Homo sapiens: one gene and its partners. The protein of the gene in region 3 binds, or shares a complex with, the protein of the main gene of each other region. Each region holds a gene or a part of one and is shown on either strand. Other genes may lie near its edges. The genes, in order: POLR2K, POLR1C, POLR1B and POLR1E. A codon is read from its position in the direction of its gene.

Region 1 (7,755 bases), on a different chromosome or scaffold from region 3:
ATATTTTGAAAGCAAGAGAGACCAACCACATTCACATAACTTTTATTATAGTATGTTATCATTGTTCTATTACATTATTATTAATCTCTTGCTATGCTTAATTTATACATTATACTTTATCATAGGTATATATATATGGAAAAAACAGTGTATAAAGGTTTGGTACTGTTTGAGGTTTCAGGAGTTCACTGGGGGCCTTGGAATGTATCTCCCGAAGATAAGGGGGAACTACTGTAAGCAAAATCGAAAGCTATACAACAATCAGAAATGGGAAGAGAGCAAATCCAAGTATAAGTGAAGACATTCCTCTGAATTCCCAGCATTCATCGAGCATCAAAAACGACCACTGTATTAATTTGAGTTAAGGACAAAAACGGTACTTAAACATTATTAAGACTGAAGGTTTCAAAGTCACTTTCTCTTTGCAATAAGCTGGTTTGTTATTTAACTTAAAATGCAAAAAAGAATGGAATTCACTATTTACTATGACAACTGGTTTTTAAATAAACTAAAAACACTTTCAATTTTTATTACCACCTTTTCCATAAAATGTATCAAAAAACACTAAAGCAGGCCAGGCGCAGTGGCTCACGCCTGTAATCCCAGTACTTTGGGAGGCTGAGGTGGGCGGATCACGAGGTCAGGAGATCGAGACCATCCTGGCTAACATGGTGAAACCCCATCTTTACTAAAAAATAAAAAAAATTAGCCGGGCATGGTGGCGGGTGCCTGTAGTCCCAGCTACTCAGGAGGCTGAGGCAGGAGAATGCCATGAACCCGGAAGGCAGAGCTTGCAATGTGAGCCGAGATTGCGTCACTGCACACCAGCCTGGGTGACAGAGCGAGACTCCGTCTCAAAAAAAAACAAAAAACAAACAAAAAAAAACACTAAAGTAATGTTAAAGCGGATAATCCGTCGATTTACAATGTGTGTTAGTTGTATCATAACAATTTACTCTGTATTTTATTTTTCCACATGGGGGTCACACTATGTTGCCCAGGCTGGTCTTGAACTCCTGCAGCCTCCCAAAGTGCTGGGATTATAGGTGTGAGCAACCATGCTGGGCCTACTCTCAGTATTTGAACAATTTGTATGCCCAACTTTTTCCATTAGGTAGTATACACAATATTTGTATTTCTCCTCGTGAACTTTAGCTTGTCCATAAACTGAAGCTCAAGAATGAATACTTATATAAATGTAGTCATGCACCCATAATGACGTTTTGGTCAAAGATGGAGCACATATAAACAGTGGTCGCATAAGATTATACTCTATTTTTGCTGTACCTTTTCTATGTTCAGATATACAAAAACATTGTGTTACAATTGTCTATTCAGTACAATAGCATGCTGTACAGGTGTGTAGCCTAGCAGCAATAAGCTATACCATATAGCCTAGATGTGTATGTATAGTAGGATATACGGTCTAGGTTTCTGTAGGAATGATGAAATTGCTTAAGGACACAATTCTCAGAATGTATCCCTATCCTCAAGCTTGACTGCACAGAATCCCTAAAAAATAAATTTATGAGAACCAAAATCAACTAGCATTATTTAGATTATTTAGAGCCTATGCATTGGTCCATGAAAATGCTAATCATGTTTGTTTTTTAAGTACTGTAATCCAGAAAGTTATCATTTTAACCAGAAATTAATCTTTATCAACCCCAGCATTATTCATTTCCTCCTAACTCATATTTAGAAAGCATCGTTAAAAGGATACATCTTTTAGTCCTTTTCTTGTACATTATTCTGTATCCACATTCTCTGCATCTGATTGGATCCCTAGATTTTATTTCATTTTCTGTGTGACACTCTAGAATTAAAAAAAAAAATTTACTCAATGCCTAAGAGGAAAATATTACAGACAAATTATCTTAAATGTATTATTTACCTAAGGCAATCCAAAACACTAAAATATACTCAATCTCAAGGGTCTGCTGCTTTTATTAAATATATTAAATAGGAAAGAAAAAGGTTGTAGGCCATGCATATTTCCAGGAGAGAGAATGAAATCTCAACGAGCTTTGTTTTTTTCTGTTAGTAAACAGAAGACCAAGGACGAACCCAGGTCTACTGACCTCAACGATTTTTTTTATGGTTGCTAAAGTGTTCTACTTTATAACTCTGAAGACCAGTAACTCATTTAAGCAAAGAATAAATGTAACAATTTCAAAAAAACTTAAATAAAATATTCTTACTTTAGGTAAGTGCTACTCTTACCTCCACAGATATATATCATTGGTTGCTGCTTTGGAGGTTGAACGTCCTTCTGGGTGTCCATTGTTAGCCCCTGAAATCACAGACTCAAATACTGAATATCTCAAAAGGGCTTCTCACAAGTCCATCCGGGCCCATTTTTCTCAGGAAAAGCTACAAAGATCCAATTCCTAATCTGTTCCTTTCCCCAAATCCTATGGGTTAGGTCTCAAGGACGAAACGCATACACACAAGTATTGAGCGTTTACCCCAAACTGGACATAATAACTACTTCATACGTGTTAGGCCATTATAATCTTCATAACAATCCTAGGAGACATCACTCTTGTTTTACAGAGGACGCAACCGATACTTAGACATGTTAATTTCCGCAGGATCACTCAGCTACTAAAAGTCAAAGGGATACAGATCTGACTGTAAAGCTCGCGTTCTCGTTTAACACAAGTTCTATTTTCCCAAACTCTAGCAGAAGTTAGCCAAAAAAAATTATATCCCTCAACAGGGGAACAGGCTCACCGAGGGAAGAACAATGAAATAACTCCTACTGGCTAAACATCTAAACTAAAAGAAAATAGGGAAAAGAGCGATAGCATGGACCGTATCCCCAGCCACTCTCAACTCTACCCCCATACCGGACCTTTTTACCCCAAGTGTCTTTCCAGTTTTGGCCCAAATATCCACCACAAACCCCAACCCGCCAATTCGCTTACCTACACAGCACGGAAAAACTCACTCCGCGTTTCCAAATACAACCCGGCTAGTCCAGGTGTCGAGACCAACTTCCGGCGCTGGTACATGACGCACAGTGCTGTCTCTCTTTCTCTCTCTCTTACTCCCCGCCCCTTCCGCCCCAGGCGTGGCCAGACAACCCGGATGGCGCAAAGGCGGTAAAGCAGGGGCTTTCTGTCTATTAGATTCTACGGGTTTAAGTGCCTGGTCCCCAGCTATTTTAATTTTGCAGGAAAGCAGAGCATTTTAACAGTTATGCAAGTACAAGGCGGTGTGTGTTTCTGACTAATGTAGTGGTACAAAGTAACACTTTTCCAGAAGGGTAGAGGGTTAGAAGAAAAACCGAGATGACAGTGTCCGAGAAGTACTAGGATAGCCGTTACTCGGACGAACATAGAAGAATCGACTACACCAATGATTTTCACGTAGAAAAACACTTTTCCAGATTGTTTTTAAAAATTGTTTGATATCTGTACTGGGGCAGTGGGGCAGCTGCCTCCTACCTTTCTCTTGATTTTGTTTTTGCTTTCTGGCCCCTTCTCTGATAGGCTACTGTCACATCCCTCGCCCAATCCGTTTACTTGTTTTAAAGCAAAGGTTAGTGTGACGGTAGCTACATGAACAACTCCCTCTTAAATCTAAGAGATTTTGGTAGCTTTCGCTGTCTACTCACCCGCCCTCCGTTCTATGTATTCCACCATAGAAGAACAAAACGCCCTGCTCAGTGGAGGTGCGTTCTTTCAAGTATCAGAATTTCAGTATGATGGATCAGTTGGGTTCAGAACGTTTACATTTGTTTCCTTTTTTTCCAGAAGATATTTTACTTAGTAGGGTGAAGAAAATGAAGCTATTTTAAAAAATTTAAAAATAACTTAATTGTTAATAACTATTTTAAAGTTAGTGAAAGAAGTAGGCGTTCTTTCTCCCAACACGCACTATGTCTGATATTTTATTAAGCAGGTTATACTCCTTTCGGGCCCTCCATCCAGAAATCTGAGAACTTTGAGCTTCACCTTTCACTTCCAGAAGTTCAAACTCCTTCTGTTGCATCTCCCCAGACCAGCTTGAGAGATTTAAGTTGATCTTTCCAGGAAGATGCCATTTAAAAACCCTTCAGGAAAACGCAGCAGTTCCTGGCTTCTTTCTTCACAGACAGGCTAACAGAGCATAAATATTTTAACCATTAGCCCTGTTACAAAGTACCTCTCCTCTTAACCAAAGAGGTGATCTAATACAAGAGGCACAATAGGCTTCCCTGTAAGAACTATTAGATGGAACCATTGTTATCCTAAGCGAAAGATGACAGAGTGATCCCAAAAGTCAAACTTTCATATTTACAAGCTCTCTTGTATATTAACTCTCCAGTTGAAATATCAAGATAATTCTCGTGCAGAACAATTTATGGAGATCAGAATGGATCAACATATGTAGAATACAAATGGGTCCTGGGGCCCTACAAAAGGGCAAAGTAATGACAAGTCATAGCAAGAAGATCCAGAATTTCAACAAGAATTCATGTTGGTGCTAGTTCCCAATCCAACACGCTCTTTCCTATCAACAGAGACTGGTAGTTCTAGGATCACTTGGGAGTTTGGTCAGTGTAAGCTACACTATTATCAATGATAGCATTAACTTTTTCTGAGCATGTACTACATGCCAGACATCATTGCATTGCTCTGTTTTAATGGGGGTAGTTGTCTTGCCATCCTGGAAAACAATGCTTTTAACTCTTTATTAAGAAGGTTATGGAGATGCAAGTTGCTATTTTTTCCCTGAATCTCTGTCTTTCCTTTTTCCTTGATTATATTCACTTAAATATATCCAGATAGCTTGAATATCATGGTAATTTGGGAAATCTCCCATTACGTTTTATTGGATGGTCCCAAAAAGAAGCATCAGATTTTGTGGCAAGCAGGTGGGTTTTAGAGTTCTGAAATTAGTGATGGGATGACACCCAATGCAAGAAAGGAAAGCAAAGGGCTGGGCACCGTGGCTCACGCCTGTAATCCCAGCATTTTGGGAGGCTGAGGCGGGCAGATTGCTTGAGGTCAGGAGTTCAAGACCATCCTGGCTAACATGATGAAACCCCGTCTCTACTAAAAATACAAAAAATTAGCCAGACATGGTGGCATGCACCTGTAATCTCAGCTACTTGGAAGGCTGAGGTGCAAGAATCGCTTGAACCCGGGAGGCGAAGGTTGCAGTGAGCTGAAATTGCCCCACTTCACTTCAGCTTGGGTGACAAAGTGAGACTCTGTCTCAAAAAAAAGGGAAGCAAAAAGGCAAAAGACTGTAAAGAATATGAAATTACAGCTCAGTGGCTTCAATCTGGAGTATGTAAGTAAAGCTCAGGCAAACTACATATAACTAGGTGTCTTTTTGCCCGTTTTTAGGTGGGGAGAGGTGACAATGATTCTTCCTTGAACAATATAAAGGAGATATGATATAGTCTTTCACTCCTCAGACATAATAAAATATCTCAAGAAAAATAAATTAACTGGAGAAAAAAGAAAAGGGCAATGTTTAAATGGTTTTGGGGTTATGTGGATTCTACTTAACCATTGGCAAAATTCCCTGCCCTGTTTACATTGGGATGGAGATGGGGAGCAGACATTAAACAAAAATGAGTAGATAATATGGGATTTTAGAAGGTAGTAAACTACACAGAGAAAATTCAGTAGAATTCTGCAGGAGAATTGCAAATGTGGGGCAGGAAAGGGTAAAATGGCTGTAATAGAGATTTGTTTGAAGAGCTAGAGAGGGTACTATTCACTCTACCAGGGAGTGTGGGGGTAGGCTTCAGAGAGGTGCTGTCTTGAAGAATGTGTAATTCATTAATTCTTTACAGTCCTACAGGTACCTCAAACTTAACAACCTCACACTAAATGCATCTTATTTTCTCCCAAGCCTATACTCTTCATTCCCTCACTCCTTGCCCCATGCAGTTGATTCTGCCAACTGAACATGTCACATCTTGGTTCTGCTCCACCCCCCACTGCCTTCTGGAGAAATGCAGTAGCTTCCTACTGGTCTCCTAGCAGCCACCCTTGCCTCTCTTCATTCTGTCCTCCATTCTGCCACCAGAGTGGACTTTCTAAAATGCTCTTCAAACTCTGAAGGTGCAACCAGAACTTCCCAAGACTTAGCTTCTTCACTTCTCAGGAATTTTCTCTAATCCTTTCCTCTAACAACTCTTAGTTTCTGCCTATAACAAATTATTTGCAGCTTCTCCATGTGCCCAACTGCTCTTGCACATTTTGTTTTGAGTTTGAAATTTTCCTGCCCTTATACATTTTAAGTTTGGAATTTCCTGCTGTCTGCCTTTTAAATTGCCACTTGTACATCAAAATCTATCTCATGCACTCTGTTCTCCAGTAGAGTTAGCTGGTTCTTCTTTCCTTTGTGCTGCTACTGTTCCTCTGTTACAGCACTTGCTCTATACCAATGAGCTCCTTAACAGCAGTAACTGTGGCTGTGTCAGCTCTGTATTCCCAGTACCTAGCACAGTAATTGGCACATAGTTGGAATTTAATAACTGTTAGTGGACGGGCACAGTGGCTCATGCCTGTAATCTCAGCACTTTGGGAGGCTGAGGCAGGTGGATCACCTGAGGTCAGGAGTTCGAGACCAGCCTGGCCAACCTGGCAAAACTCCGTCTCTACTGAAAATACAAAAATTAGCTAGGCGTGGTGGCGGGTGCCTGTCATCCCAGCTACTCGGGAGGCTGAGGCAGGAGAATCGTTTGAACCTGGGAGGTGGAGGTTGCAGTGAGCCAAGATTGCACCACGGCACTCCAGCGTGCGTGACAGAGCGAGACCCTGTCTCATAATAATTTTAGTGAGTTTGGTTTTGGATGACTGAGGGACATCCAGTTGGAGAAATGTCCAGTCAGAGAAGAGTGGTGGTAGTGCCTGTTATTGGCTTAAAAGTGATGGTTGAAGTTCTGAATAAGAATTACATAAGCATGGGATGATAAACTAATAAAAATGCTGAGGTAGGACCTCTCATTTAGGGAGTAGGCCAAGGAAAAGAAGCCAGAAAAAGGAGACTAGGAAGAAGCTGCCAAGAGCAGCAGGAGTGTCCCTGGCATATAATAGACGCCCAGTAAATATTTATTGAATGAAAAAATTAGGGTTTAAAAAATTTATTTGGCTTTGAGGGTACTTGGGAGTTCATGATGCCCAAAAATGGATGTTTGTAAACAATGAACACATTTCACTCTGGTTTTTATGAATAGATTTTTTAAAAATCTTTTTTTTGAGATGGGGGTCTCACTATGTTGCCCAGGCTGGTCTCAAATTCCTTGGCTCAAGTGATCCTCCCACCTCTGTGCTGGGATTACAGATGTGAGCCACCAGGCCCGGCTCAGCTTTTTTATCACAAAATCTGTATATATTCATTGTTGAAACATGAGAAGAAAACACAGATAAAAAGAACTAAAAAGCAAACATAATCCTGTACAAATTTACCGTATCCAAGTTATTCATACCTTTCAGACCTCATCCTGTGTATATCCATATTTTTAACCTAAAAGGGGTCAGTTTGTAACTTGCTTTTTGCACTTGACAGTTTGGAGAATCATTTCCAAGGGAACATTCTCATACATGATTTCTAATGGCATCCCACTGTAGGCCACGTTAGCATTCCTAAATACGGTAATGCTTCCCAAAGTGGGAATGGGGAGAAGCAGAGCCTTTCTGACCCGCCTCGGGACGGGTGCAGGGGTGAGCGAGAGAGGGGGCGCTCCTCCCGCTCAAGCGAGGACCCAGGCCTGCGGGCGGCCGGGCGGGAGCGCTGCAGAGCCGG
Region 2 (7,752 bases), on a different chromosome or scaffold from region 3:
AGCGAGGATCAGATGGGCCCAGCCCACCAGCCATCATATCTAGCTTCTTGCTCTAGGCAGCTGCTTTCCCATTCTCCCCCACCCAGACCTTCCTGCCACTTACCCTCTACCACTTTGTGGTAGGCAAAATGCAGATAGAGCAGGAAGAGCATGTGTAGGGCAGCCAGGGTGCCACAGAGGAGCAGCCGCTGTGTGGGGCCCACGGTCCGAGACACCAACACTGCTACCTAGGACCATGAGAATACAGCTCAAAGGGCCTGGCTCCAAAGTGAGGAGTGGGGACAAGACACCCCCACCCAGGGCAGAACCATCTTTGGGCTCTTCCCTCCCATTTAGGGCTCTTTGTGAGATGGACAGCTCCAGGCTGTCTTCCCCAACTCCCTGGGAGGACAGCCCACCCCTGGAAGCCTCTTGCCCAGCTTACCATGCGCAGTGTGGACAGTCCACCCACCAACAGCCAGAAGAGGTAGAAGAGGGCGTGGAGGTGGATATTATAGGTGATGAACAGGACAATGCAATGCCCAAAGAGGCCATAGCCCTGGGAAGGAGGATGGTGGAGAGGAAAATCATTCAGGTTGGGCTGCTTTCTGGCCCCTCATGGGGACCCTGGGAAACACATGGTCCATTGGCCTACTCCTCCCATTCCAGGCTTTGGGGCCCCAGGACAGATGCCGACCAAGGCCTGGCTACTCTTTTTAACATCACTCTTGCCCACCACACCTGGCTCCTTACCAGCAGTGCCAACATCTGCAGCATGGTGATCTGGGCGTTGCACAGGTAGGCAAGGAAGTAAATGAAGGATGAGACTCCCAGCCAGTAGCCGAAGCAGGTGCCAATGGCTGTGCCCATCAGGGTGCCCTCCCGCTGTGGGGTGAAGGCTCTATTTAGTCCTAGGAGGCCTCTGATCTCAGCCTCACCTAGGGCCTTCCGCAGGGGCTGTTCCTGTCTCACTCCACCATTGTATCCTCAGGCAGCTTTCAACCTAGTGCAGCCACCCCCCCAAAGTTGTCTGTCCTGCTTACGATAATAGTGTCAGACGTCTTCATCCCATGGAGTAGGATAGCAACCAGAGTGAAGACCAGCATGAGAGGTCCATAGAGTTCACCTGCAATTTTCTGTCAATATACCAATTCATTCAGGCTGGAGGGTACAACAGCTCATCTGTTTATGGCTTCCCAGGATTTGCCTGGTGGTCCCACCCTCTGCCCTGGTGCTTCCCCCGGCTCTCCAGACATGCCACCCTCTATTCACCTGGGGGAAGTTGACCATCTTGATAGGGATCATGGACTCCAGGAGCCTGGGAGAGGAGAGGAGAGATTAAAGCAAAGGCAGCACAAGGCCATGAGGTTCTGGAGGGCAAGGCCTGAATTTTATTCATCTCTAACTCCAGGGAATGGGGCCTGGCCTAGAAGACATGTTGGATGACACGGTAGAACAGGGTAGTAAAGACAGATAGGGAATGAGGAAATCATTTCCTTGCCCCTAAAGTTACTTCCAGGAAGGACAACCCTCTGAAACTTAGCTGACTGAAACAGCAGCTATATGGAGAACTCAGCCCTACTGGGCCTTGAAGGAGGGCCCGACCATGTATCCGTCTGCCCCCTCCCCTTGAAAAGACAGGCAGGCTGGGCGCGGTGGCTCACGCCTGTAATCCCAGCACTTTGGGAGGCCGAGGCAGGCAGATCACAAGGTCAGGAGTTTGAGGCCAGCCTGGCCAATATGGTGAAACCCTGTCTCTACGAAAAATACAAAAAATTAGCTGGGCATGGTGGCGGGCGCCTGTAGTCCCAGCTACTCAGGAGGCTGAGGCAGGAGAATTGCCTGAACCCGGGAAGCGGAGGTTGCAGTGAACCGAGATCGCGCCACTGCACTCCAGCCTGGGTGACAGAGTGCGACTCCATCTCAAAACAAAACAAAACAAAGACATGACAAGACAGGCAGACCTCAGCAGAGAGTACCCAGAATTCAGGGTTATAATGAGGAAGCCCTGGGAAAAGTCTAGCCGGCTAGATGGAAAGTTTAGAATGAAAGGTGTTACTGAGGGAATAGTAAAAACGCCTCCTCTTCCTGCTTATCTGTGCCTCCAGGCACTTTCGAGTATTTTCTTGAAAAATATATGTGAAGTGGTATGAAAATTTAGTCACTTCCCTCTTCTCTCAAGTGGCTAGCTCCTAATCATACCTGGGATTTTAGCTAGGTTTTACTTCCTCTGGGAAACTTGTCCTGTCCCACCCACCAACCTGCTTTGGCTCACATATCCCTCCTGTGTGCCCCATCATAGAATGAGTACTGTACTGTAACTGCACTCAAGAGCAAGGCTCCCATCTATCTTCACCACTGAACCAGATACGATTAGTTTAGCGTCTGGCACAGAGCAAATGCTTAATAAATACCTGCTGAGTGGTCCTGGGTATTTGATTAGCATTGATTAAAGGATGAACAAAAAAACCAAGCCAGGATTAAATCTAGTTCTTGAAAAGTCACTCAAAAACTATGCCCTGATATTTTGATTCTGAGACTGTTCTGGTGCTGGGAATAAAAAGATAAACAAGACAGAGCCTGCTTTTGAGATGCTGTTGGTCTCTGGAAGGAAGATTCCAGGAATAAGAAAGGATAGCAGTGGTGAAGTGCTGTCTATTAGAGGCAAGCGCAGAGTTCTTTTTTTTTTTTTTTTGAGATGGAGTCTCACTTTGTTGCTCAGGCTGAAGTGCAGTGGCACGATCTCGGCTCACTGCAAGCTCCGCCTCCGCCTCCCAGGTTCATGCCATTCTCCTGCCTCAGCCTCCCGAGTAGCTGGGACTACGGGCACCCGCCTGTCTAATTTTTTTTGCATTTTTAGTAGAGACAGGGTTTCACCGTGTTAGCCAGGATGGTCTCGATCTCCTGACCTTGTGATCCGCCCGCCTCGGCCTCCCAAAGTGCTGGGATTCCAGGCGTGAGCCACCATGCCCGGCTGGCAAGCACAGAGTTCTATAGGAACACCAGGAGAGAACAAACTGGGGATGGGATTGAGGAATGTGGAACAGAGGAAGTGACATCTGAGGTAGGTTTTGAGGGAAGATGAGTAGTCAGTTAGATGGAAAAGAAGAGGAAGATGGTGTGCTATTATTACTTGTTTCAGTGACAGGTGCAGTGATGAGAGGTGATGGGGTCATGAAGACGGGGAGCCCATCAGAGCCCAGGGCTTGAAATCTGACTGTAGTGTGCATGAAGGTCTAGGTGTTAGGAGGGAAGCTTCTTCAAGAGAAGGCTCCTCACCTGCTTCGCACCTGAGCAGGCTCCACATCAAAGTAGGGTCTGAGGATGTCGATGTTGGCGTACAAGCTGAAGGCCCTGGAGGCTTGTCTTTTCCCAGCCTGCCACATCTGAAGTAAGGAAGATGGGCATAGGTATTGTGGTACTGTTGGTTCTAGATCCTGTTGCCTATTTTCCGTTTGATTTCTACATGGTTCTAACTGGACAACCTGGGGCGAACATCACCAACACCAATTCCAGAACACGGGACATACCTAGGTCTACTTTTCTACCTGCAGAGGATTCAATCTTGCTTACCTGATCTGCCACCTGCCGGCTCAGCTGTCCCTTAAAGCCCTTCATGCCCAGGAACTCTCCATCCTCCTCTTCAGCAGCAGCTGCATCAGCTGCATCAGCGTCTACTTCTTCCTCGCGCAGGCGCTGATGCAGCTCACCCATATCCTCGAAGCTAGAGCCTGAGGTATCATCCATGTTCTCCATGTCAATCACAGCTGAGCCTCCGCCCTGTGAAGACAATGGCTCCTAGAGTGCAGGACTTTTCTGTTCCATCCATTAAGTCCTCTGCTCATCCCAGGGTTTAGGGCTTTGTTCTTCCACTGCTGAGGATACGGCTTGGAATCACTACAGATCATGCCACTCCATTCCCCCTCATATGCTCTCAGAACGCCTGGTTTCTAGCTTTGGCTATCTTTTCTAGCCTGGGAAACCTACTAGTCTTCCATTCATGTCTTTCTCCTATGTTACCTATCAAAGACTAAAAGGCTGAAAAAGTGCCCATTTCCTTCTTTCCTAAGCCCCAAACAAAACTATACACATAGTATGTTTTCAGCGAATGCCAGTGAATCCCACCCAACCCCACTCCATGCCTTACCCCGACCAACCTCCTAACTTGTTCCAAGAATACCTTCTTCCTAATGCCTCGGGCGGGCCCTGAAACCCGAGATCCTCAGGCTGGAGTAGTAGTCTGGCCCTTTCAGGTCAATGTTAATCCCACTGACTTTAGTGTGCACGAAGACCCAAAGAAGAGAGTTTTGTAAATGGAGCGGACTTCCAGGCCCAGAGGGGGAATCCCCAAGACACTTCTGGACATCGCCGGCCCTCCGGCTGCTGGCAGCTGGTGCCTTGGGGCCATTACCTGGATGTTTTCTTCGAACCCTCCCCATTCCGGGCCAGCTCCATTTCGGGCGCCGCCCGCCGGCGCCGCTGTAGTTGCCATGTCCCTTGAGGGCTCCCGTCGCTGAAACCCGCGCTAGCCCCGCGCGCGGAGTGGGCAAGATGTGGGCCTCCGGAAGGTAGACGTCCAGGGTCGAGGAGAGGTGGGATCGGCCGGAACACAAAAAGGAGAAGCCCGGATGTTTGGACAAAAGCAACTTCCGGAAGCTGGGGACGTGGACGGGGGCGGGGAAAAATCTCGCGATATTTAAGATTCCAGGAGGCGGTGCGTTGCCACGGAGACGGAGCAGGGCTACTAGGACGCACGCGCGAGATAGAACCTCTAGTCTCGTGGAGAGATTGAAGATGGCGGCTTCTCAGGCGGTGGAGGAAATGCGGAGCCGCGTGGTTCTGGGGGAGTTTGGGGTTCGCAATGTAAGCCTTGTGGCCTTGAGCTCGGGCGGGAGGAATGAGAGCGGAACAGGGATGGGTCTTGGGATTGGCGTGGGGATAGCTGTGGGCTCACTGTCCCTTCGTGGACAAATTCGTCCCTTTGCTCTAGGTCCATACTACTGACTTTCCCGGTAACTATTCCGGTTATGATGATGCCTGGGACCAGGACCGCTTCGAGAAGGTAAGTGGGGCCGGAGTTGTCTGGGGAGGGTTATGAAGGCCAGACCTTGTGGTCTGAGCAGCCTGTGTCTGTCTCAGAAGCTGCTCTTGGGGGTCGCTCCGTTTGTAAGTTTGTTGAGCAATGTGCTAGACGCTCCGTTTACAGGCCAAATTAGACACGGTTTCTACCCAGTTCTGCAAAGATGTTCAGTCTTGTTGAGGAATGGTGTGTATAAACAGTGAATCTAGTGTAATATGGTGAAGGTGGTTGATAGCGATGAAGACGGCAGGGTTGGGGTGGGGAGCATTACGCTGAGACCAGGAAGAGGGGCGGAGAGGTACTTAACATTTCAAGAGGAGGGTACATCTCAATTGAGCCTTGAATGGTAAGTAAAAAAGAACAGGAGTTAAATTATGAAGGGTTTGTTTCAAGTCAGTGAAGTTCAGGATATACAGGTTTTGTGTGTATTTAGTCTTTTGTATTGTTTCACTTAGCTTAAAATAAGGGTTAAAATTGCATTTAAATAGATTACTGAATGTTACCGTTTAGGCAACTGACCTTTGCGTGCAGCTTATAAACATGATCTGTAAATCAGTGCTTGGGAAAATTTTACTTTTTTAACCTGTTGATACAAGGAATAAAGTATGAACAATGAAAAAGGTTAATGCTTGAAAAAAAATTATGGCTTGTGTGAAGTGTGCTCCGGGCATGTCCAAGTAGTTCTGGCATGAGTGGTAGGCAAGGTTGAAGTGTGTCTTGGGCACTGTTGATGATAGGGAGATTGAATAGTTCTTAAGCAGACATGATGAGATTTGCAACCTTGGTGGCTGGGAGGGAATGAGTTTGAGGAGGATCATATGGAGCAGGCAGATCTGTTGTAAGGGAAGCTGAGGTTGAAGACATGAACTAAGACTGATGGTAGAAATAGAGCAAAGGTAGAATAGAAGGTAAATTTATGATTGCTTTGGTAAAGGCTGTGGGGGTAGCATAAAATGACTTTTTGGCTTGGGAACTGCTTTGATGCATTGTGGTATCATTTACTGAGAGGAGAAATGGGTCTGGGGAACGGGAATGATGATGCATTGTTTTCTGCATGTGGAGAAATCTAGCAGGCTAGAAGACTGCATGCTTGAAATGAGATCAGAAGTGAGATAACATTTTGGGAGTTGTCAGAACAGATAGTTGCTAAAACTGTTAGTACAGTTAAGGTGACCTGGGAGAGAGACAAGAACCTGGCAAATTTAGAGATGGGTGGAAGTCGATCATCAGAGAAGGAAGAAGAGTGGAGCTCAGAGCTCAGAAACCAGGGGAATAGTTCAAAAAAGGAGGAGATTTTTTTCTTTGCTTTTCATGAGGCACTCTTATGTCCCAGGCTGGAGTGCAGTGGCGCGATCTTGGCTCACTGCAACCTCCGCCTCCCGGGTTCAAGCAGTTCTGCCTCAGCCTCCCGAGTAGCTGGGACTACAGTCATGCGCCACTATGCCCAGCTAATTTTTTGTATTTTTGGTAGAGACGGGGTTTCACCATGCTGGCCAGGCTGGTCTCAAACTCCTGACCTTGTGATCTGCCCGTCTCAGCCTCCCAGAGTGCTGGGATTACAGGTGTGAGTGACTGTGCCGGGCCAGGAGGGGGTTTTTTAATCAATGCCAAGCATAACAGAAGTCTAGTAAGAGGACTGAGTAGTGTCAACAAAACTAAGCACTATGGTAGTTTCTGTTCTTCAGTAGAATAGCTTCTGTGGATGGTTTGGTTGGAAGCCATATTGCATAGGGTTTTAATGAATGGACGACAAAAATGGAGACTTTTCATGAAACTTAAAACACTGGGCGAGATAGAATATTTAATAAGAGACATTTGGGCAAAGGGAGGTTTTTGGATGAGAGGATAATACTTGAGGGAATTATCTAAGGGGGAGGTATGAAGAGATATTACACAGAGAGCAGATTTCACTTAAATGTTTTTTCCTGTCCCTCTAGAATTTCCGTGTGGATGTAGTACACATGGATGAAAACTCACTGGAGTTTGACATGGTGGGAATTGACGCAGCCATTGCCAATGCTTTTCGACGAATTCTGCTAGCTGAGGTATTGGCAGGCATGGTGACAAGGCTGGAGTTGCTTTGGGAACTGCACTGACACCTCACTTGGAGAATTAAGTGTCTCAAGCTGTCCTTCCCTCCTTAATTTTCCTGGAATTTTGCTGAGCATTTTACCTTCTCATTCTTTGTAAATTTCTCATTAAACATTCTAGGAAGAGAGATAGCTCCCTACCTCTGGAGGTTGGGGTTACGGGGATAGGTAGGGGGTCTGTTGGGTTTTTGCAGATAAGTGGTTATTTTTCCTTGGGCAGGTGCCAACTATGGCTGTGGAGAAGGTCCTGGTGTACAATAATACATCCATTGTTCAGGATGAGATTCTTGCTCACCGTCTGGGGCTCATTCCCATTCATGCTGATCCCCGTCTTTTTGAGTATCGGAACCAAGGTGAGAAAATGAAATTTTGGGAGAAGTGGACTATCTGGGTTCAAATCCTGGTTGACTGTGATGTTGGGTAAGTTACTTATCTTTGTACATCAGTGTCTTTCATCTGTGAGAACACTTGCCTTGTCTCCCAAGTTTGCCATAATTAAATGGGAAACACGTAAAGCATTCAGCATAGTGCTGGCACTCAGACGTTTACTAGTTCTTAGGAGCTCCCTCCATTTGTGCAGGAGATGAAGAAGGCACAGAGATA
Region 3 (7,014 bases):
TAACTGGCATCACATTTTAACTTTCCTCACATTTTCCAAATCACTGATACTAACTACAAAAACCCAGACATGGCTGGGCACGGTGGCTCACGCCTGTAATTCCAGCACTTTGGGAGGCCAAGGCAGGTGGATCACTTGAGGTCAGGAGTTCGAGACCAGCCTGGCCAACATGGTGAAACCCCATCTCTACTAAAAACACGAAAATTAGCCAGGCATGGTGATGGGTGCCTGTAGTCCCAGCTATTCGAGAGGCTGAGGCAGGAGAACTGCTTGAACCCAGAAGGTGGAGGTTGCAGTGAGCCAAGATCGTGCCACTGCACTCCAGCCTGGGCAACAGAGCGAGACTCCGTCTCAAAAATAAAAAACAAAAAACAAACAAACAAAAAACAAGAAAAACAAAAACCCAGGCACACAGAAATAGCTTAAAATCTAATCATACTTAAATATAAAAGGTAGATAGATCCAAAACCAAACTTCAAAATTTACTCATAATATGCACTCAAATATGCAAGACATACGTGTATCTGAATATTTAGTGGATATTCCTCAAGGCTTGCCCACTTTCAACTTAGACTAAGAACTAATCATTTAATAGAACATCACGTGCCAAATACTAGGTACTTGGGTACACAAAAATATTCCTTCAGTGATTTCACAGTAAACAAACAAGTTAAAAAATAAAAAGATTGGAACAACATTTCCTGGTAAAACTTACCATGGCATCTTCCATATCATAGCCAGTGTAAGAAATCACAGCAACGATGGCATTGGTCCCAATTGGATAGTTATCCATGTCATAATAATCATACATGGAGGGTCTCACCAAGGGACTCTGAGGAGTCTGAAGACGATACAGTTTGTTATCCGATCGGTCTTGATAAGTGAGAAGTGGAAAGCCCATAGTTTGCTTACCTACATGGAGAAAAAACATCTTAGCATTTTCTGCTGCTTTCATCTTGATTATAGGTGTGATACGCAACACTGGAAACAACTAAATATCCATCAGAGGAAAATGAACAAATAAATAGTCATGGTAGTTATGCTTACTTTAGACTAATACATAAGCTGTGAAAATGAAGTAAACCTAAATGTATCAACGTGACCAGACCAGGAAAACCATGCTGAGTGGGAGAAAGTGCAGACTGACATTTAATATGATACGATTTATGTGTATTTGCAACACACCCCAAACAATTCTATACTTAGTTTATGGATACATGTATGATGTAATAAAAGCTTTAGAAGGGGACAGAAAGGAAGTACGCAAATTACAGGCTATCACTACTCGGGGAAGAAAAGGGGATAGGAATTATTACGTAATTAGATTACTTTCTTACAGCGGAATATGTATTTAATTCTAAGTAGTGGAGCATGGGGTGAGATTCCTCTGTGTACTACCTCACAGTACAGAGAATCATTTCACGACAAAATGATTTTAAAATATAAATACATACAAGTGAAATTTTTAAAAAAATTATAGACTTAGAGCTTCCAGTAATAAAGGGCTACTCTTACTAGACCACCCTCAACACATAAGTATGAGACGCAGACCCCCAACTACACATACAGCACTGGAGAGTAACCAAAAGCTGTCAGAAGCTGAGAAGAATTTTTACTTGGACAAAAGGAACACACTGGGTGAATTTCCAGGTTTTTAAGTATTTATGTATTTATTTTTGCCTTATGGCCCAGTGTGGCAGCTACAACTTAGATAGAAACCCACAATCTTACTGGCTTGAAGAACCAAGAAATAGAGTTCTGAGCATGACAACAATTGGGAAGGGGGAACATTTCAGAAATGAGAGAACCACAAAGGGAGACCCTTAAATTCAGCATATAAATTGGGTCCGAATCTTTGGTGGACTCCTGAACTATGCATGCATGGGACAGATCACAGCAGCCCACCTAAGGCTGAAGAATGTACTTCAACTGCCACGTTCACCAAGTTAAGTACCAGTGAAAACTAAAAACCAATCCTCTTCCCCTGGAGAATTTTTGGTGACATGCACTGAACCAGGTGATGGACTGTGTATTAAGAAGGAAAGACATAAAATGAAAAAAATTAAAATGTAATTGAAGGCCAAACACCACACTAAAAACAAACAAAACCAATCCTCTTCAGAGGACCCTAACAGGATCCAGGGTTTAAAACATACTCCTCGCAATGTTCATAATACAATCCGATATTACTGGGCATACAAAGAAATGGTGAAACTTGACTTATACTCAAAGAGACTGATACTAAGATGACCCAGACATTGGAATCTGCAGATAATGATTTTACAACACCCATCATATAAAACTATGTTCAAAATATAAAGGAAAACATGCCCACAATGAATGAAGATAAGAAATCTTAGAGAAGAAAGAAACTATAAAAAAAGAAACAAGTCAGGCCAGGCGCAATGGCTCATGCCTGTAATCCCAGCACTTTGGGAGGCTGAGGCAGGCAGATCATTTGAGGTCAGGAGTTTGAGACCAGCCTGGCCAACATGATAAAACCCTGCCTCTACTAAAAATACAAAAAATTAGCTGGGCATGGTGGCACATGCCTGTAATCTCAGCTACTCAGGAGGTAGAGGCAGGAAAATTGCTTGAACTGGGGAGGCAGAGGTTGCAGTGAGCCAAGATCGTGCCACTGCACTCCAGCCTGGGTGACAGAGCGATACCCTGTCTCAAAAAAAAAAAAAAGAAAAAAAAAAGAAACAAGTAGAAGTGCTGGACTTGAAAAATACAGGCATGCACTGCATAACAATGTTTTAGTCAATGCAGGATGGCATATATACTATGGTGATCCCATATTTTTACTGTACCTTTTCTATGTTTAGCTACACAAATCCTTGCCATTGTCTTACAACTGTAGACAGTACACAGTACAGTTACATGCCACCCAGGTTTGTAGCCTAGGAGCAACAGGCTATACCATATACTAGGTGTGTAGTAGTCTCTGCCATCTAGGTTTGTGTAAGTTCACTCTATGATGTTCACACTACGACAAAATCACATATGACTCACTTCTTCGAAGGTATCCCTGTCGTTAAGGGCACATGACTGTAAGCAAAAATTCAGTAGAAGACAGAATAAAAAGTGACTGTGATAATAGGTCAATAAAAATAATCCAATCTGGGCCAGGTGCAGTGGCTCACACCTGTAACCCCAGCATTTTGGGAGGCTGAGGCAGGCAGATCACTTCAGGTCAGGAGTTTGAGACCAGCCAGGCCAACATGGTGAAACCGTATCTCTACTAAAACACAAAAATTAGCTGGGCATGGTGGTGTGTGCCTGTAATCCCAGCTCCTCAGGAGGCTGAGGCAGGAGAATTTATTGAACATGGGAGGCAGAGGTTGCAGTGAGCCGAGATTGTACCACTGCACTCCAGTCTGGGCAACAAAGTGAGACTCCATCTCGGGAAAAAAAAAAAAAGATCCAATCTGAAGAAAATAAAGAAAAAAGAGAACAGAAACTCAATGTCTTATGGAACAATATCAAAAGGTTTAAATATATGAATAACTGATAGAAGAGGAGGAAAGAGAGAAAAGGATAGGAGCAATGTTTTTAAAAATAATGACAGAAGAGTTTAGCAATTTAATTAAACTGAAAAAAAACAAAATTTGAGGCCGGGCGCAGTGGCTCACGCCTGTAATACAGCACTTTGGGAGGCCAAAGTGGGCAGGTCACCTGAGGTCAGGAGTTCGAGACCAGCCTTGCCAACATGGTGAAACCCCGTCTCTACTAAAAATACAAAAATTAGCTGGGTGTGGTGGTGAGTCCCTGTAGACCCAGCTACTTGGAAGGCTGAAGCAGGAGAATCACTTGAACCCAGGAGACAGAGGTTGCAGTAAGCCGAGATCACACCACTGCACTCCAGCCTAGGCGACAGAGCGAGACTCTGTCTCAAAAAAAAAAAAAAAGAAACACACTATATTCAGAAGACTGCTGCCTTCTAACTAGAAATGACAGAGACTAAGAAGAGACAGTGTAACAACAACTTTTAAGTGTTGGAAGAAAAATAACTGTCAACTCAGAATTGTATATCCAGTGAAAGATTCCTTCAAGTGAAGCAAAATAAAGACATTTTCAGATAAATGAAAACAAAGAGAATTTGTGGCCAGCAACCTGCACTATAAAAAAATGCTAAAGGAAGATTATCAGGCTGAAGGAAAATTGTATACAATGAAAACTTGAATCTTGCAGCAGGAATGAAGAGGACTGGAAGTGATAAATATGCGGGTGACTATAATTGCTTGTATTCTTCAAAAAATCAAATAATAAGACCTCAGGCACACCCAAATCTATGGACATTCTATACCTTTTTCTTCAAAAATGTCAATGTCAAAGACAAAGAATGTTTAAAGATCTGTCATAAATTACAGGAAACTAAATAGACATGCCAACTAAATACAATGAGTGATCCTGGGCTGGTTGCTTGTGGCACAGAAAAAAGAAAAACTTGCCATAAACTGTATTTTTGGAACAAATGGTCAGCATATGTAAATAAGGACAATAAAAGAGTGTGCTAGTATCAAGTTTACTTTCCTGATTGTGACTGTAACATCATCCCTCTTCCTTACCCATCTGGCATTGGTACATGTTCCGTGGACTCTGGTTGTGATCAGAGAAAGGGATGAAGTTGGCAATCACACTCAGCAGGCTGTGTGGAAAGAGTTCCTGGTGTGTGGTAACTCCAGCAAAAACTTCATCCTCAAAGATAGCGACATTCATGAAGATCTGGAAGAGCAGATGTCCAAGGCACAAAATAACTGCAACTGGTTACACATTTACTCTTACCATTTCTCAGAGTTCAGTACTCAAAGACTCAAGAGAAAACCATCCCCACCCAGCATCATGAGTGCTGAAGGGATCAACTGGGAAGCACAGGGAAGCGACCAGTTAGAAATACCACTTGCTTTACGTATCTCACTCTAAAACTACCCCAGACCAATTGTGAAGGGGAATAGGAAGAAAAATTTTTAAGTAGCACAAAGCCTATAATTTTGCAACTGTAAATATGTAGGCAAAGACTGAGTGTGAATCTAATGGAATGTTTTCACTTCACGGCTGAGGCAGAGCCAGGTACAAAGGAGTTCTGGGAGCTAGATAAGATGGGAGGCAGGTAATGTGACCACCAGCCCTCTCTCAGGTTCTGTGGAGTGAGATCAGACATGGAAATTGCTCTGTGCTGATCATAGAGGAGGTGGAAAGTCTGACTTTCTTTCAAATGTCCAACTGTTGTTGTAACATTAACAACCCTTTTAAAAAAGGAAGAGTTAAGTCTCTGAAAGTTGTATACTATACAAACAAGCACATACACTCATCCATCACACATATGTATTTACCTGTTCCATAGTTCCAATTAGCTCTTCTTTGCCCAATGCTAAGTTCTGCACAGGCCGTACCAGTCTACAAGGAGTGGTAAAAAGGAACAATCCTGGGTACAGACTTGGTTTTCCTGTCATGGGTATAAGGACCACTTCCATCCAGGGAGGAATTCTTTTCTCTCTCAACACCTGTTTTTAACAAAAACAGAGTTTAACAAACCTGTCCCAAGGCCATGGCTGTCGCTGCCAGTCTTATGCCCCATGGAATACCACTCATCCACACTCAGCCATGGTAAAAGCCCTACTTCCTTGGGTGCTCACCCCAGCTAGTAGGCAAATCACTAACTACTGAGGCTAAGGATAAAGCACACCATGAATGCACGTGTCGATACACTAAAGGAAATTCTGTCCTCTGTGATCTAAAATACAGTAGATTACTGGTTTTATTTGTAAATTTAATAAACCAAAAACTCATGGGTGGGCCGGGGGTGGCTTATACCTGTAATCCCAGCACTTTAGGAGGCCAAAGTGGGTGGATCACTTGAGCCCAGAGGTTCAAGACCAGCCTGGGCAACATGATGAAACCCCGTCTCTACAAAAATTAAAAAATTACCTGAGTGTGGTGGTACGTGCCTGTAGTCCCAGCTAATCGGGAGGCTGAGGTGGGAGGATCACTTGAGCCCAGGAGGTTGAGGCTGCAGTGAGCCATGATCATGCCACTGCACTCCAGCCTGGGTGACAGAGTGACCCTGTCTCAAAAACAAAACAAAAAAACTCCAACAAACTCCTGGGTGAAAGGAGAAATAAAAACCTAAATTACAGAAACCTGAAAACAACAACAACAACAACAACAACAACAAACCCATGTGTCAGAACTCATGGGGATTCACAGCTAGATGCATTATCATTAAAAATGAGAGAATGTTTGGTGGAGGGGGACACGGGGAGATGTTGGTCAAAGAGTATAAAGCTTCAGTTATGCAACAAAATTAAGTTTCTGGAGATCTCATGTACAGCATGTGACTATAGTTAAGAATACTATATTGCATGCTTGAAATTTACTAAGAGAGCAGATCTTAAGTGTCCTCATCCTCCGATGCTCCACAATGCTAACCAAAAAAAAGAGAATGAAAATAAATTCTCTATAAAAAAGATAAAATCTGAGACTAATGAGGCAGGTAGCTCATTTGAGGTCAGGAGTTCGAGACCAGCCGGGGCAACATGGAGAAACCCCATCTCTACTAAAAATATAAAAATTACCCAGGCATGGTGGTGTGCACCTGTAATCCCAGCTACTTGGGAGACCGAGGCAGGAGAATTGCTTGAACATGGGAGGCGGAGGCTGCAGTGAGCCAAGATCACACCACTGCACTGCAGCCTGGGCGACAGAGCGAGACTCTGCCTCAAAAAAAAAAAAAAAGAGGAATGATTGTTTAATGGTTACAGAGTTTCAATTTGTGATGATGAGAAAGTTCTGAAGATGGTGATGACTCCACAACATGAATGTACTTAAAACCCTCAACTGTACACTAGATCAAATCTCATACACTTTCTGAGCATCAAAATAAGTAGTAACAGAATATTCACAAAATTAAACAAGCATCTATAAATCTACGCTAACATAAATAAATGAACAACTAATAGAAAAGAAAGCCCTCCCTTACAGAATAGCAACTAATAAACATAGAAAAAATGC
Region 4 (7,789 bases), on a different chromosome or scaffold from region 3:
GTTCAAAAGTTCTCAACCTTCTCTCTGCCCACACACCTGAGGAATGCATCATCTACTCATGGGTAACAATAATCTCCCCTACCCCTACCCCACAGCAATTCTCTGCATAGAGAGGGAATAGGAAAGGATAGGATGGGATGGGAGGATATGAGGTGGTTCTGGGAAAAAAAAAAAAGCTACTAGGTGATTCTGATAGTTGATCACATTTGGGCTCACTGCGGTAGTGTAATGGAAAACTCTTTTGGGGTGTACGAACCTAGAATTACACTACAATTTATGGCACAACAGTTTTATGGAGGCAAAATCAAGTAAACGGGGAGGAGACCAATTGGAACTAGGGCATCTCTGAGAGGGGAGAGTGCAGGGTTAATAGTTCTCAGCACCTATACACCCATCTGACCTCTCCTCTATTGGAGTATGGTCCACCGGGGCTCAGAAAGGGCCTAGTTTGTAGTTCATTGTTGGGTACCATCACAGGGCCCTGTCTGCATCATGCCAGCCCCCGAGAGTGATACAGTTCAGGCTGGACAATCTTCACTGTACAGAGGGGGAGGCTGGGGGTCAGTGATGCGCAGAGTTACCCAGCCACTCAGTCAATCAGCAGCACAGCTGGATGGGAATCCCAGGCTCCTCTTTCCCAGTCCAGAGCCTTCAACACTACCAAGTTCTTTACCTGTCGTTAGTTCCCAGGTAAACTTCACGCAAGCTTTGACCTACTAGTCACACATTCCAAATTAATGGAGAGACCTGCCTTTTGGAATAAGACAGCTATAAATAAACAAGATTACAAATGAATGAGGTTTTTAGGAAATTCAAGTTATCTTTCCTTTCCAGCAACGTCTACACGTGCAGGGAAGGGCTCTGGGTCTAATAGGAACACAGGGATCACCTAGTAAACCTCTCTAGATGGCTCCTGCTACCCTTAAAACAGACAGGAAACAGCAGTGCCAGTGCTGCCACCACTCCCAACCCCATCACCCTTCCCACTGTCCCTTCCCCTGCCATTACCTGCACAAAGTGTTGCATTTGAGGGCTCCAGTCCCAAAATTGTTTCCCACATAGGAGAGCCTATCTGTTTCAGCTGCCTAAAATGCAGAGAGGGGAAACTCCATTTACAACCAATGTTGAAAGGTATTAAGCATCATTTCTCTTTTCTACATTTGCTGAGGCTTTTGAATCCAGACTCACAATGGATTAGAACTAGTTCATCTCTGGCAGATGATCCAGCCCCACTATCTCTAAGGGAATATGGGGTGTCCCTGCAGGGGAAGCAAGACGACTTCTGGAAGAGAAGCCTCAGATGGTGCTAGCTTCTAAATGGTATGAAAAGCTCTTGGGGGAATTCTGCCACAAGACTTGAGAGAGAGGCCCTGGGCTTCTGGCACTTAAAGGTATGCAACAAAGTGATTCTGTAAGCAATCTCTCTTTGGCCTGTTCTTTGTATACTCTCAGGACCATGGCTGATTCACTCCCCAATCATAAGCAAGCTTTCCTGCTTCTCTGCATTTGTCCTCACTATCCTTTTCACTCGAAACACCAAACGTTGACTGCCAAACCCTCATTCCAGCCTTCAAGGCTCAGCTCCAACATGACCTCACCAAGGAAGGCATTCTGGCAGAGACCTCTCCTCCCACTGAGCTCACTCTGCCCTGTACTCTTCCCCACGTGGCCTCAGAGCTTTGTGTAAAAGTGTCCCTCACAGCCAGTTCTCATCTCTCTAGAGCAGAGGTTCTCAATCCAGGGAAATCCACTCTGGTGCTACTGGCATCTAATGAGTAGAGACTAGGGATGCTGCCCCCACAGCAAAGAATTATTGGCCCAAAAAGTCAATAGTCCTGAGGTTGAGAAACCCTGCTCTAGAGTATGAACTCTGAGTGGGGCTAGGCCTGATTTGGCTGTTTTCCTAGAAGCTTGCAGCACAGGGATGCAGAGGGGCAGGTTCCATAAATGCTTGTTGAAAGAACAAATGAATGAAAGATGGAGCCTGTCCCCACATCCCAGGCTGCTGGGCATCAGAGTTCTTCAAAGCTCCATTTGCTACTACTCCCCTTTTTCTCCCCTCACTCCCTCCCACATCCACCCACTCCCAGGGGCCTTCTGAGCCCTGCAGAGTGGAGACAGCTGGCAACTGCTTCACTTACCAGGATCCGTTGATTCCTCTTCCTGGGGTTGGTGGAATCTTTGTTCTCATACAAGGTAAAGCGCATGTTGCCTGGACTCTGTAGCTTCCCGTTGGAGAACTGGACTGTAAGAGTGCAGCCCAAGAATGAGATGAGAGCAGAAGGCCACACAATGTACCACACAATGTACGGTGGGACTAGACTGTCACTGGGAGGGAGTGTCAGAATGGGGATGGCAAGGAAGCTCGGGTCCTGACCCAAAGGGAACTGGAGGAGATCCGGGGCCAGCTGAGAAGAGGAGGTAGGGAGGTGGGAGAACCCTGGGGAGGGGCTGTGACAGGAGGGAATGTCTCGCGGAAGGAGGCTGACAGCAGAGGCCTGGTACATACCTAAAGTGACAGAAGGAACCCCTGCCCAGTGAAGAGAGGGAAATGGGGGAGGCGGGAGACCTGGTGGGTGAGGGGGTCAGCAGGGTCCTGGACACAGCTCTGGGGAGCGGGTGAGTGGGATGTCCCAATCTGGCTGGGAGGTAGTGACAGAAAGACGGACAGGGGAGCCCTGACAGAGCCCAGGGGAGTGGTGGAGACTAGAGGGGTCCCGGCCCCGCTGGGGAGAAGCCCAACGGAGGGCGAGAGGACAGCTGAGGTACCGAGACGGAAGGGGAGAGGGTTAGAGGAGCACTGCTCCAGCTCCGCAGTCTTTACCCAGTACAGCTCTCTGGCTCCCGTCGGGCGCCCCACAATACTGCCACCTCGCACTCGGCAACACCTCCGCCGCCATCTCGCCTGTCTGTCCGCCAAGCACAGGAGTTAAGACAGCAGCAGCCACAAGCGCACTTTTAAACACGCGGGAGCCCAGGCCGCGCTGCGGGCCGGAAAAGGCGTGGCCCCGCCGGGCACCGCCCACAGCGCGCGAGCCGCGTGTCCCCGCCCCCCGCGTAGAGAGGCGTGGTCTCCGCCCACAAGGTGCCACACACCCGCTTGACTGGCCGAGGCGCAGCACCTGATTGGCTCAGCGCTCGCGTGCACTCTGGGTTTTGTAGGTCCAGAGCCCGAGGCGCCAAAGGCTTCAGCCTAAGCTTGCTATGAGCCTTCTTCCGGCTCAGCACCTTCTAAAGAGAGTGTCGTCTCTCTCTCCTACCGTGACAAACTCATCTTCCCAAGACCTGAAGGACCAAGTTCAAATTTAGAATTCTCTGACAGGAACTGCTTGAGCCCCAACTAAATGTGGCCGCTGGCGAATAGCCGCCCCTCTCTAGGGCTTCCCACCCACCCACGTGGACATCCAGCTCTAGGTACAAACTTTGTCCACAGTCCGACAAACAGCTCCCCGCCATGGGCTGTGGCGTGCACACCTGTGGCCCAATCAACACTGAGGTGATGGAACAGAAGCCCAGCCAACCCCGGAGCCTTTGGGCAGGAGATTCTGGACTGGAATAGAAGAGGGAGTCCGAGCTGATGGACATGTCCCTTTTTCACTGCGGATTCAACCCTTCTTCTGCACGGGGAGTTTTCAGAGCAGAAAGAAGGCGAAAGCAGGGCCTTTAAGCATGGACGCTGGCCGAGGCCCCCTTTGCCCAAAGATGCGTACTATTGAAGGGCAAGAACTCCGGTTGACTCCCCTCTGTCTTCCAAATCACCTTCTTTCAAGACTCTTTTCCTTCCACACACCCTCAACACCCGCCTCCAACACCCAGGATCCTAGGAATAACCCTAAAGCCTGCATGCCCCTTTGCCTGAGCACTTGTCACGCTTTTCTAATTACCCAATCTCAAACGTAAAGAAACACTGCAAGAAATGTTTTTGCCCTGAACCATTTAGAGTAAGTTGTCAACCTGATACCCTTTCAACCCTGAAGACTATAGTATTTCCTACAGACATTCCCTAAATAACAACACAGCCATCAGAATCAGCAAATTGCCGGGCGCAGTGGTTCACGCCTGCAATCCCAGCACTTTGGGAGGGAGAGGCAGTTCTATCCCTTGATTCCAGGAGTTTGAGACCAGGCTGGGCAACATAACAAGACCCTGTCTCTACAAAAAATAATATTAGCCATGTGTGGTGGCGCACGCGTGTCGTCCCAGCTACTCGGGAGGCTGAGGTGGGAGGATTGCTTGAGCCTAGGAGGCAGAGGCTGCAGTGAGCTGTGATGGTGCCACTGCACTCTAGCCTGGGCGACAAAAAAAAAAAAAAAAATTAAACAGAAAAGAATCAGGAAATTAGCACTGGTACATTACCACCATGTAATCCTCACATCCCATTTAAGTTCACCCATTGTCCCAACGTTTGTTGTTAGTTTGTTTTTTGAGACAGGGTCTCACTCTGTCACCCAGGCTGGAGTGCAGTGTTGCAACCAGGGCTCACTGCAGCCTTGACCTTCCAGGCTCAAGTGATCCTCTCACCACAACCTGGGAATACAAGTGTGTGCCACCACACTCAGTTTTGTTTTGTTTTTTCTTAATTAAAAAAATTTTTTGTAGAGACTAGGTCTCACTGTGTTGCCAGGGCTGGTCTCAGACTCCTGGGCTCAAGTGATCCTCCCACCTTGGCCTCCCAAAGTTCTGGGATTACAGGCGTGAGCCATTGCAGCTGGCCCAATCATGTTTTTATAGCAAAAATGTCCTGTCAAGAATCATGTGTTGCATTTAGCTCTCATAGCCTTTCCTCCCTTAGAAGGCTACCTTGCTTGACCCCACCTCATGATTTTGGATTGAATTGTTCAGGAAAGGAAAAGGGAAGAAGAAGAAAGAAGAAAGAAGGATGAAGAAAGAAGAGCTTAATTGTGTGATTGTCTCACCCATTGATTGTTTCCTCACTAAACTTACTTGGGGTTCACAATAAACACTTTGGAGGTTAATAAACAAATTTATGTTTGTTTTGATCACTGCTTTATCTCCAAATCCTGAACATACTAGACCCTCAATAAATATGGAATGAATTAATGAATGACAGGGCAAAGAATGGGCCTGAATTATCACTAATCTTGGAAGCCTAGCACAGGGACTGGAACTCAAAGATGTTTGGTAATATTGGTTGAAATCAACTAGCATAGGGTTTACACATAACAGACTCTATAAATGTTTTTTGGTTGAATGAAAATATGAACAGTTAAATCAAAGTTAAAGGTGACCAAGATAACAGTGGCTACAATGAGCCAAGTATAGTTCTTAAGAGAAGTATCTTGTGATATAGGAACACATTATATGGCCTTGTTACTCATGATATAGGAACACATTGTATGGCCTTGTTACTCAAAGTGTGGTCCATGGAAACAGCAGCCTCGACAGCACCTGGGAACTTGTTAGAAATATAGGATCTCCAACCCTATCAAATCTTCTGCAACAGGATCTGCAGGTGATTCATGTGCACTTGAAGTTTAGGAATCACTGTTATACCGGACTGATTCCCCTTTAAGGCACATATTTGCCAGTCAGACAGATTATGTGCAAGTCCCCTGGATTGACTGTTTTGTAGCGAGGACAAAGAGTGAAGAGTACAACACACCCACTGAAGCAAAAACTCCTAGAATTACCACAGGCAAGAATTCCAAATGACGGAGATTCTATCCGTGGAAGCAAAGTGTTGATGGTCAGGCAGCTGGGAAGGGGATCATAGTATACCCCTGTGTTGTTTAATTATTTAACAGTTATTCAAAAGACACACCTATACACACCATGTACATATACATACGTGCCTGTGTAACTGGGATGGGGCAGGATGGAGGTGGGATGGGGCAGGATGGAGGGAGCCCTACATAGGCATTAACCAAAATGCAAAAACCTATAGTGGCCTCTTTTATTTTTTTATTTTATTTAATTATTTATTTATTTTTTTGAGGCGGAGTCTCACTCTTGTCGCCCAGGCTGGAGTGCAGTGGTGTGATCTGGGCTCACTGCAACCTCCGCCTCCTGGGTCCAAGCAGTTCTCCTGCCTCAGCCTCCTGAGTAGCCAGGATTACAGGTGCCCACCACCACGCCCGGCTAATTTTTGTAGTTTTGTTAGAGACAGGGTTTCACCATGTTGGCCAGGCTGGTCTCGAACCCCTGACCTCAAGTGATCCACCTGCCTCAGCCTCCCTAGGTGTTGGGATTACAGGCGTGAGCCACCACACCTGGCCAGGTGGCCTCTTTTATATTCAAATCGTGGATAATCACAGGCAAAATTTACCACATAATTTTTTTTGGAAATTTAGTTTGGAAATAATTCAGAGACACCTGGAGTTCTCTTTTAGTATCATTTTTCAGAGAAGGAAAATGGTTTTCCAGAGGGCAAAAGGAGAGGGAGAAAAGCAAAGTCCTCCTTTCCTGGGGTAATATCTCCATCTGCTGGTGTTTCAGGATAACACTAACAAAGACCTGAAAAGGCGAGTCAGATTCCATACTGTTTGCAGTGACTCGCCCTGTACTCTGGGGAATGGCTTCTTTTTTTTTTTTTTTTTTTTTTTTTGGAGACAGAGTCTCGCTCTGTCACCCAGGCTGGAGTGTAGTGGCGCGATCTCGGCTAACTGCAACCTCTGCCTCCCGGATTCAAGCAATTCTCCTGCCTCAGCCTCCTGAGTAGCTGGGATTACAGGCGTGCATCACCATGCCCGGCTAATTTTTGTATTTTTAGTAGAGATGGGGCTTCACCATGTTGGTCGGGCTGCTCTTGAACTCCTGACCTCGTGATCCCCTGCCTCAGCCTCCCAAAGTGTTGGTATTACAGGCGTGAGCCACCGCGCCCGGCCGAGAATAGCTTCTTCTGTCTCACCTCTTCTCTTCCTTTCTTGTCCCTCTGCTTCTCTTTTTCCTCCCTTCCTTTCTCCCTCTGTGTTTGTCTCACTCTCTTGTTCTCTCCTCTGGTCATTCCCATTCCTTTCCTTCATATCCCTGATGCAGACCCTCTTTGCATACCTACACACATGGATGACTCACTCCTTAAAAGGTGGACTTCTCACCTTGAACAGGTTTTTTCCTTACATGGAGCTGACTCTACCTTCTGTAGCTTCTCCCTATAGCTCCAGTTCTTCATTCCGGGGTCATGCAGAACACAATCAGCTCTTCTTGCCTGTGCCCTTCAAAAGCCTGGAGACGTCTATCATGCTTTCCATGTATCTGTTCCTCTCCTCTCCCAGCCAAAATTATCCCTCACATACCAAAGTTTCTAGGTCCCTCCTCTTCCTGGTCACCTCTGCTAGACATATGCCAGTATATCTGGATCCTTCAGGGTCCCATACAGATCAGTACTTCAGCACTGGGCTGGGTAGCACAGAACAAGGAGAATTCATCACATCCCCTGTGCATTTGTTGTAAACATCTATACTGCTCAGTTAACTTACTGGGGTTAAGAATAAACAAAAGTTCTTAGCTTTGCTTCTGCTAAGTTATATCATCCTTGTAACTTTTTTGAAAAACAAAAATTCAGAGCTTTGTATTAAGGGCTGTTAAATTTACTCAAGTTAGATTCAGCCTGTTTATATATTTAAATTTTTCTGAATATGTATTAGATAAAAAACTTATCAAATAAATACATATTTGATGTTGAAAATACAGAAACATATTAATAATAAAATTACAGTAATCTATGATATCTTCCCCACAAAAAGGCAAAAATTATTCAATTTGGTTGTATTTCTTTCTAGTTTTTTTCTCTGTGCATATGCACATTTATATAATTGATATAATACTGTAT

Evidence for each region.
Region 1: the proteins of POLR1B (region 3) and POLR2K are in contact, whole or in part, in a cryo-EM structure (PDB 7OBA), measured with the Homo sapiens proteins. Residues at the interface, in NP_061887.2 of Homo sapiens: Val87, Ile92, Cys93, Lys94, Glu95, Val98, Ala101, Glu102, Gly105, Arg106, His159, His160, Gln704 (codon at 877), Asp705 (codon at 874), Val793, Phe794, Gln805, Asp808, Asp809, Asp810, Leu812, Pro813, Phe814, Ile815, Gly816, Ala817, Lys818, Leu831, Val848, Asn851; in NP_005025.1 of Homo sapiens: Met15 (codon at 2,242), Tyr17 (codon at 2,236), Gly20 (codon at 2,227), Glu21 (codon at 2,224), Ser30 (codon at 1,790), Arg31 (codon at 1,787), Asp32 (codon at 1,784), Pro33 (codon at 1,781), Ile34 (codon at 1,778), Arg35 (codon at 1,775), Cys39 (codon at 1,763), Gly40 (codon at 1,760), Tyr41 (codon at 1,757), Arg42 (codon at 1,754), Ile43 (codon at 1,751), Met44 (codon at 1,748), Tyr45 (codon at 1,745), Lys46 (codon at 1,742), Lys47 (codon at 1,739), Arg48 (codon at 1,736), Arg51 (codon at 1,727), Val53 (codon at 344), Val54 (codon at 341), Phe55 (codon at 338).
Region 2: the proteins of POLR1B (region 3) and POLR1C are in contact, whole or in part, in a cryo-EM structure (PDB 7OBA), measured with the Homo sapiens proteins. Residues at the interface, in NP_061887.2 of Homo sapiens: Arg713 (codon at 850), Gln715 (codon at 844), Lys761, Ala762, Glu765, Arg766, Gly767, His770, Tyr774, Gly816, Val848, Arg872, Pro874, Glu900, Asp901, Phe904, Glu906, Gly908, Lys967, Gly970, Tyr971, Asn972, Phe973, Tyr974, Arg978, Tyr980, Ser981, Gly982, Ile983, Ser984; in NP_976035.1 of Homo sapiens: Ala70 (codon at 7,063), Asn74 (codon at 7,075), Arg77 (codon at 7,084), Arg78 (codon at 7,087), Leu81 (codon at 7,096), Ala82 (codon at 7,099), Gln102 (codon at 7,424), Asp103 (codon at 7,427), Glu104 (codon at 7,430), Ile105 (codon at 7,433), His108 (codon at 7,442), Leu112 (codon at 7,454), Lys220, Asp221, His222, Ala223, Thr230, Ser232, Tyr233, Arg234, Leu235, Asp281, Thr282, Phe283, Ser284, Glu286, Arg289, Arg301.
Region 4: the proteins of POLR1B (region 3) and POLR1E are in contact, whole or in part, in a cryo-EM structure (PDB 8A43), measured with the Homo sapiens proteins. Residues at the interface, in NP_061887.2 of Homo sapiens: Lys254, Ser258, Phe259, Ser260, Tyr262, Gln263, Gln266, Ser295, Thr296, Gln297, Ser338, Thr340, Glu341, Ala532, Cys535, Pro541, Ile542, Asp543, Gly544; in NP_071935.1 of Homo sapiens: Gln27 (codon at 2,243), Ser29 (codon at 2,237), Asn30 (codon at 2,234), Gly31 (codon at 2,231), Tyr69 (codon at 1,061), Thr76 (codon at 1,040), Leu79 (codon at 1,031), Lys80 (codon at 1,028), Cys81 (codon at 1,025), Leu84 (codon at 1,016), Cys85 (codon at 1,013), Met109, Gln110, Pro111, Leu112, Phe113.

The regions. Positions count from the first base shown.
Region 1 is NC_000008.11:100,145,885-100,153,639, reverse strand, and holds the start of POLR2K (DNA-directed RNA polymerases I, II, and III subunit RPABC4), read right to left. Parts: upstream 3,005-7,755; 5' UTR 2,931-3,004; intron 2,294-2,930; 5' UTR 2,285-2,293; coding exon 2,224-2,284; intron 1,817-2,223; coding exon 1,724-1,816; intron 347-1,723; coding exon 324-346; 3' UTR 1-323. UniProt on the Homo sapiens protein: DNA-dependent RNA polymerase catalyzes the transcription of DNA into RNA using the four ribonucleoside triphosphates as substrates.
Region 2 is NC_000006.12:43,512,337-43,520,088, forward strand, and holds the start of POLR1C (DNA-directed RNA polymerases I and III subunit RPAC1), read left to right. Parts: upstream 1-4,752; 5' UTR 4,753-4,773; coding exon 4,774-4,842; intron 4,843-4,969; coding exon 4,970-5,041; intron 5,042-6,996; coding exon 6,997-7,104; intron 7,105-7,369; coding exon 7,370-7,502; intron 7,503-7,729; coding exon 7,730-7,752. Other genes in the region: protein YIPF3, read right to left, coding at 104-227, 425-538, 733-864, 1,023-1,115, 1,252-1,297, 3,259-3,365, 3,553-3,759, 4,391-4,471. UniProt on the Homo sapiens protein: DNA-dependent RNA polymerase catalyzes the transcription of DNA into RNA using the four ribonucleoside triphosphates as substrates.
Region 3 is NC_000002.12:112,566,460-112,573,473, reverse strand, and holds part of POLR1B (DNA-directed RNA polymerase I subunit RPA2), read right to left. Parts: intron 6,717-7,014; coding exon of another isoform or gene 6,579-6,716; intron 5,508-6,578; coding exon 5,337-5,507; intron 4,729-5,336; coding exon 4,572-4,728; intron 913-4,571; coding exon 716-912; intron 1-715. UniProt on the Homo sapiens protein: Catalytic core component of RNA polymerase I (Pol I), a DNA-dependent RNA polymerase which synthesizes ribosomal RNA precursors using the four ribonucleoside triphosphates as substrates.
Region 4 is NC_000009.12:37,481,159-37,488,947, reverse strand, and holds the start of POLR1E (DNA-directed RNA polymerase I subunit RPA49), read right to left. Parts: upstream 3,001-7,789; 5' UTR 2,901-3,000; coding exon 2,825-2,900; intron 2,716-2,824; exon of another isoform or gene 2,508-2,715; coding exon of another isoform or gene 2,246-2,507; coding exon 2,142-2,245; intron 1,086-2,141; coding exon 1,009-1,085; intron 1-1,008. UniProt on the Homo sapiens protein: Component of RNA polymerase I (Pol I), a DNA-dependent RNA polymerase which synthesizes ribosomal RNA precursors using the four ribonucleoside triphosphates as substrates.